Homo sapiens: one gene and its partner. The protein of the gene in region 2 purifies or fractionates together with the protein of the main gene of each other region. This does not show direct contact. Each region holds a gene or a part of one and is shown on either strand. Other genes may lie near its edges.

Evidence for each region. Proteins that work in one complex are often made in the same cells at the same time.
Region 1: the proteins of TM4SF18 (region 2) and REEP5 purify together in Homo sapiens (affinity purification with mass spectrometry; 2 studies listed by BioGRID and IntAct, with this or other methods). This does not show direct contact.

Annotation. Positions count from the first base shown.
Region 1 is NC_000005.10:112,884,228-112,887,727, reverse strand, and holds part of REEP5 (receptor expression-enhancing protein 5), read left to right. Parts: intron 1-544; coding exon 545-713; intron 714-3,500. UniProt on the Homo sapiens protein: Plays an essential role in heart function and development by regulating the organization and function of the sarcoplasmic reticulum in cardiomyocytes.
Region 2 is NC_000003.12:149,326,677-149,331,012, reverse strand, and holds part of TM4SF18 (transmembrane 4 L6 family member 18), read left to right. Parts: intron 1-593; coding exon 594-683; intron 684-4,336.

The DNA of each region.
Region 1 (3,500 bases), on a different chromosome or scaffold from region 2:
ATGAAGAACAACTGTAAAGATTCCTTGAAGGCTAAGATCTACCCAAAACTGAGGTCCACCAAAGGAAGAATTCAGGAATGGACAAGGTATTTTTTCCATAATAGGATGAATAAATGTGATAAACTTACCAAGATAAGCCTACCAAGCACAGGCCTCCTAGATATTAGGCTTATCTGTACAGGGCTTTATACATGCAGATAAGTACTATATTTTCTTAAATTGATTTCTAAGAGTTATGATTAATAAAAGCCTCTTACAGCTATATACTAAAACGTGGTCCAAGTTAGGAAGATAGTTAAGCTCCTGGACCTGGTGTGTTTTACCTTTTGTTTTTTAGTCTCAGCTTTTCCTTACCAGCTCATTACTCATCATGTTTTTTCCATCTAAAGAAAGCCCACCTTTAACCTGCAGAAAACACTGGTAATGCCTTTGGGGAAAATAACAGAGGCATCTCCCATCCCCAGAGTAGTGAAAGACAGTGTGTATTCTCAGAATGTGCCCCCTCCACCCTCCTGTTACCCATGCTGGCTCTTTTTCTGTGCAGTGTGGCTTCCTGTTGTGGTGCATGGCCCCGAGCCCTTCTAATGGGGCTGAACTGCTCTACAAGCGCATCATCCGTCCTTTCTTCCTGAAGCACGAGTCCCAGATGGACAGTGTGGTCAAGGACCTTAAAGACAAGGCCAAAGAGACTGCAGATGCCATCACTAAAGAAGGTAAGACTCAGGAACAAGATGGCCCCACATGTGAGAGGAGATGTGACACACTGGGCTCAAATAACAGGCTTCCTGGCCTTCTTGTCTTATCACCACCCCTCAGCCAAATGCCAACATTACTCTGGGATTTCTTTACAAAGTCTTTGCCTATTGAGAACACTTACAGTTCTCGACTTTTCCCAAGACTCTTCCTCCATGCCACATTTAATGTAGCCTTCAGTCAGAACATTAGGAAAAATGACTTTCCTTGGTAGGCAGCGATTTTAGAGAATCATCTATATTGATATGCAAGTCCATCTCTTCTAATTGTTTATTTAATTTTTTTGTATTATACTTAATTACATAGGTAGTTTTAAATAAATGGAGAAAGCACCTTTCAAAAGCTATACTAGCAGGAAAAATTCCATCAAGCATTTACGTAGTAAATTTCTATAATTTTACAAAAAATTCTTGATCTTTACTTGAACTGTACATGAGGGGAAAAGAGCCCCCTCAGGTATGTGTTCTCTCCACTTGCAGAAGAAAACTAAAGGACCTAAAACTAGAGACAAGCCTGGGATGCCAAAAAGCGGGAGGAGAAATGATAAAGAGCCATTCATGAATTCCATGTCTACTCTAAGACACTTGTCTAATCACCCTCACATAATAAATATTTAGGGCAAACTACCACTCTTTAGAAAAAGTACAACCTCAAAACCTATAGTTCTGAATTGTAACATATCGAATACCTTGGACTGCTGGATGCCAAAAGACAATACTTGGGGTTATCTATGACGTTTAAACAGGTAAATAGGGGAATTCTCTAGGACTGTACACTCTGTGACGTTTTGAATGAAGCGCAGGCAGGCTTCTCTGCTATCCTCCAGGCAGTGTAATAGTCAAGGAAAAGAGCAACAGTATTGGATCACTCCTTAGACACTAACCAGCTGGTGAAAGAGTTCATTGGCCAGTCTCCTCCTTAGAATGGTTTGCACCAAGTGGAGAGGCCATGTCGCTGAAGGGGAAAGGGGAGCCCTCATACCCACAGTCACTGTAAACATCCAGTAGACAGGAAGATGGCTTCGGGCAGTGGCTGGATGGAAGTAGATTGGAGATACCCAGGTCTGGAATGAAGTCATCTTCCACAAAGTCTTCCTTCACTGAGACCACGAATTCTGGGTGATCATTCTCTAAAAGGCTGAGAGGTGCTTCCTTGATTTTCACTACCGCATTAGCTTGGCTCTCTGTCTCAGACTACGGGCTTGGCATATATGTAGTCAAAATTAATTAGTTCATTAATAGCTTCAAGCTTGGCTGATAATGTCCCCACTGACAGAGAAAGGGAGGCTGGTTAGGAATTGGGTCCTTCTGAGTAGACCTCTGGGAGCTGCTCCAGGCTGGCAGACCCTGGGGAAGGACATTTGAAGAACACTAGTGGGTCTAAGTTGTCCAGAATGCCCAACAGGATATCATACTGGGAAGGTAGTTGATGTTTACTTCCAACCCCACCACAACTAACTTCTACCCTCATCTGCCTAGTTAGGGATGTCAAGCATCAAATAGATGGAATTATCTTGGCTTTCGCCTCCTCTTCAGTAACCAGAGCATCCATCCCCAAGTGCTGTCTTCACTCATGGTTCTCAACTACGAGTCCATGCATTTTCTCTTGTAAAAACTGATTTTCTAGCAAAAGTTTTTGGTTCTGTTCTAAATCTACCACTTGCTGTTTCAGGTCACTCATTTGAGCTTGCTTTCTGTCTCTGGCAGTTTGAGCTGCTAATCCTGTTTTTCCTCCTCAGTGCCTTCTCCTTGGGGCTCCCCACCCCCACAGCACTCACCATCTCCTGGCTGGCTCCTCTCTGGGCTGGCACCATGAGCAGCAGGGCCTAGCTGGCCAAGGCTGTAGCAGCAGGCTGACCAGACAGAAGCAGTACTTTGGAGGCCCTGACGGCCAGCCTGATTCAGTTCAGATTGATCGGTTCAGTATGCTGTTCAGTTTTTGTTATGGGTACAAAAGAATGTCCACTCTCAGCTCTGATTAATTCACTCAATAAATATTTATTTATTGAGGTGTTTAATATGTGCCAAGCATGTTCATAACACTGGCAGTGAACCAGCATACCGAAGAGACCATACTCCTTGAATTCATGAAGCTTACAGTCTAGTTGAGAGATAGGCAGTAAAATTGAAAATTAGATAGTATATTTACCATATAATATAGGGAAAAAATAAAGCAAGTAGAAAGATGGGGGGGGGCCAAGGACTGGAGGGATGGTTATGATTTTAAATAGAGACGTTTAGGAAATCTATACCAGAAGGCTCTACTGAATCAGACTCAATAGTAGTAAAGGAATCAGGAACAGTGACTCAGCCTGTAATCCCAACATTTTGGGAGGCTAAGGCAGGAGATCACTTGAGGCCAGAAGTTTGAGACCAGCTTGTTTGTGACAGGGTCTCCTATGGAGACCCGCTCTCTACAAAAATTTAAAAATTAGCCGGACGTTGTGATGCAAGCCTGTGGTGCCAGCTACTCAGGAGGCTGAGGCAGGAGGATCACTTGGGCCCAGGTAATCAAGGCTGCAAGTGAGCTGTGCCACTCTAGCCTGGGTTACAAAGCAAAACCCTATCCCCCTAAAAAAAAAAAAAAATAGAAAATGGTAAAAGAAGGAACCATGGGGAATCATACTTTAGAATGAGCTGCATATACAGAAGTCCGGAGGTGGGAGCAACAAAAGAAGTGATCTAGAGGGGTGCAGGAGGAGATGAGGTGGAAGAAGTTGCGAATGGAGGCTGGAAGACGTATCACAT
Region 2 (4,336 bases):
AGGAAATAAGATGCATTGATTCTCCCACTTTGTTGGCTTGATACAGACAAAACACATTGAAACAATTTAAACCTGAGATGGTTTGAATGCATGGGGAAATTGAAGTCACTTTAAAGAGATATGGTTTCAGATTAACTGAGCCTCTCACCTCCATTCCCAGAGGACAGTAAATGAAGAGAGGCTGGCAAACTACCAAGCCTGCTGAATGATTTTCCTTGGTTCTCCACAACTGAGTCATTGAGAAAGGCAGGTTTTGCTGCCCAGGGTGGTATTCTCCTGTCCATCCATTTACTTCTCCTTAATCATTAGCTTTTGATGGTTGCTAACCATGATAATAATAGCTAACATTTATCAGTCACTATGAATCAACCACTATACTCAAAATGTCACATATATTACCTCGTGACGATCTCTTGATACCATTTTATACAGAAGGTGTCTCAAATTCACACAGCTAGAAAGTGACAGAGCTTGGATTCAAATCCATATCTACCTGACCCCAGACTCTATGCTTGAAGACGCTGTCCTCTGATTATAAGCACAAATGTAAACTAGCATTTCATTGCTAACATTTTATGTCTTCCCTCCTATAGATGCTTATAGTAACAACAGTTCTTCTGGTACTGGAGAATAATAACAACTATAAATGTTGCCAGAGTGAAAACTGCAGCAAAAAATATGTGGTAAGAGCAACAGTTTTTTTGAGGATGGTTGAGTGGGCTCCAGCTTTCTTTCCTCTCACTCAGAAACACAAAAATATTGACAGTATTATACCCTCACTACTGTTGAGTACAGTACAGAGATCAAGAGTTTACTGCCAAGATCATCTTCCATTTTGCTTAGTCTTTCCTCCACTTTTGTTCTACTGATGCACTTTCAGAAAATCAGCATTTAAAGATACCTAAAATTAGGAAATAATACTTTTTTTTCCTAACTAAGTTTCCATTAGTCTATTTTTTCTTTACAAACTTTATTGAGGGCTAAATTACATATAATAAGTGGCATCCATTAAAATTATGCAATATCATGAGTTTTAACAGTTGACTACACTCATGAAACCACCATTGCAGTCAAGATAACAGAATATTTCTGCCAACCCCCAAAGATTAACCTTTGATTTACTTTTTGTCATTATAGATTAGTTTGTATTTTATATATGTGGAATCATACAATATTTGTCTTTTTTATCTGGGTTTTTTCATCCAGGATAATAATTTTTAGATTCATCCATATTGTTGGGTGTATGTGATGTGCATTTTCTAAGTTGGCACTTGAAAAATAATTAAAATAGTATCAGGGTGAATAATACAACCGCATTTTCTAAGCCAGTGCTCCTGCATTTCTACCATTCTCCTTCTCATCCTCTTCCTCCTCTTCATCGTTTATTCACACTTGCATAGCACTTTATAGTTCTTTCACATTTACTCAGTGAATTAAGTCATTATTGCTCCTATTTTATAGATGAAGCACTTGTGGCTCAAAGAGAACAAGTGATTATTAGCTAGGAGGAGTTTTATGATGATATCTGGTAGGCATTTTTTGCAGCAGTGCTTCTACCTGTTAGCTTCATATTGCAATCACCTGGGAGCTTGGAACAACACTAATGCCTAAATCCCATCCCCAGAGTCCCTGATTTAGTTAGTCTGAGGTACAACCTGGGCATGGATATGTTTTAAATCTCCCCAGGATATTTCAATGCGTAGTCAAGATTGTATGGCAAATTTTCTTTGACCAATGTCTTTTAAAAATTAAATTCGTTGCTTTATTTAGTACTGTGTCCCTTATGGAGAAGAATTGAAAATTTAAAATACACTCGTGTGTGTGTGTGTGTGTGTGTGTGTGTGTGTGTGTGTGTGACCAGTTGACTCAGTCATCCTCCAGTAGCTACTTGTAATATACTTATGGAAGAGATTTCAAAATTGCCTAGGGGAAATAATAAATTCAGGTATAGATTCAAGTTATGATACTCAGAGAATTTCTAGAAAACAAATATATGTGATATTAAGTGTAAAATAAAAATTCACATGTTCAATTTGCCTTAACTCACTATTAGCACTTCTAGCACAAATAGATGCTAGAAATAGTCTGAAAAGGGTCTTATAATCAGCATTAAATTAGATGACTAACATCTCATTGGGAACAGCAGGAGAAAGAAAGAGAGGATTCTCCGGGTTCCCTTTTTGGCCTTTTCAAGGTAAGTTCTAGAAGAGAAGTCCCAATTCAAATGCCCCCAGAAGCCACGTGTGTGACATAAATGAATTAAATGAGCCTGGTAGGCATCAGAGCACAATTTCCATCTAAGGAGGAGAAGGAGCTGCTACTGAAGTCCAGCCAGTTGTTGCCATGATCAAGTAGGGCAATAATTCTCAGTTTTCAGTAGAAAGTAAAAATATGGATTTTTATGTAAAACTTTTCAATTGTAAAATATTGGCAATTAATCTTCATTTAAACCAAACAAAGTACATATTGTGGGAAAAACTGAATCTGCATCAGTTTGTAACTTCCAAAATGTAATAAAAATTGATTCATTTCTTGGTTGTTATCTGCTATGGCCTGAATGTGTTCCTCCAAAATTCACATGGAAACCTAATTCTCACTGTGGCGATATTAAGAGGTGGGATGTTTTTGGAAGTGACTAAGTTATGATGGCTCTTCCCTCATGAATGAGAGTGGTGCCCTTATAAAAGGGGTTGAGGGGAGTACTCTTACCTCCCTTGCACCATGCGAGGACACATAGAAGGTGCCATTTATGAGGAATGAGCCCTCACCAGACACTGAATCTGCCAGTGATCTTGGACTTTCCAGCCTCCAGAAGTGTGAATAATAAAATTCTGTTATTAATTACTCAGTCTAAGGTATTTTTATTATAGCAGCAGGAACTAAGGCACTCTCCATTCCTGCATGGAGTCTGGTTTTCTGCCAAAATTCTTGGACAATTATTCCTGGAAAGCAAATATTGGCCAAATAAGGGCACTTGAAATAATAGCTAATATTTTATTATATTTTATTTTTGAAATTGCCCTGTCACATAGGTACCATTCCTGTCTACATCATCTACAGTTTACAGAAAAGAAAACTATGATTCAAATTCTTATTCCCACTTTATTTTGAGGCTTACCTTGATAGTGCAATGGTATCCACTCATTAGATTGTAGTGTGTGCGTGTGCATGTGTGTGTATGCTATGGCTGCCAGTTTCCCCCAATGAAGAAATTCTTCACTGATCTTCCCAGTGAATATTTTTTCCAGTTTTCCATAAAGAGGATATATTAATGTCATACTCAGTGAAATAATTTTAAACAAAGAAATGTTATTGAGATGATTTTTATTCCTAAAATCACAGGTTTGTTGGTCTTACTTTTTCTGGTCTCAGCTTTTGAATTTATTATCAATTGGTTACTGCATGTTACTATTCTGCTGCCTACTCTCACCCTGCAATCAACATTTCTAAAGCTAATTTTTCCCCCAAACCAAATAACCTTTCTTGGTATCCTTATTTCTGTCTCCTTTTTATCCAAGCCCCAGCTCTGGATTTTTTTTTTTTTTTCATCTCCAGCTACTCATTTCCTCCTTAATGTGTTTTCCTCCAATGTGTGTCTTTGTCACCTCAACTTGCATCTGTCTCCAAGCTGGATCCTTATCTTTGAGGTCTCTTACTTCCAGCTTGTGTGACCACTGCCAGAGCAATCTTCCAAAAGCACATTTTGGGCATATCACTTCCTGCTCAAAAACCAATTACAAGACTTGTTTAAAAAATAGTTTCTGGCCGGACACAGCGGCTCATGCCTGTAATCCCAGCACTTTGGGAGGCCAAGGCAGGTGGATCCCCTGAGGTCAGGAGTTTGAGAGCAGCCTGGCCAACATGGTGAAACCCCATATCTACTAAAAATACAAAAATGAGCTAGGCGTGGCGGCACGTGCCTGTAGTCCCAGCTACTCAGGAGGCTGAGGCAGGAGAATCGTTTGAACCCAGGAGGTGGAGGTTGCAGTGAGCCATGATCAGGCCCTGCACTCCCGCCTGGGTGACAGAGTGAGACTACAACTCAAAAACAACAACAAAACAACAACAACAACAAAACCCCAGCTTCTTCCAGGTCTATGGCAGGGTAAGCTCAAAATGAACCTGGAACATCTTGTGCCAGAAAGCAAGAAAATGTTCAAAGAATGACATGAGTATGTCAAAGGGCATAGGAGTTGACCTACAGGGATGTTCACATTGGCCGAATTTGGACCATCTGTGCATCTAAAAGAATAATCGCATTTATGGATTATAGCACAATGAATTAGAAGATCTGTGAGTCCAGAAAATATAGACAGAGGCAAAGGAGAGAGGAATG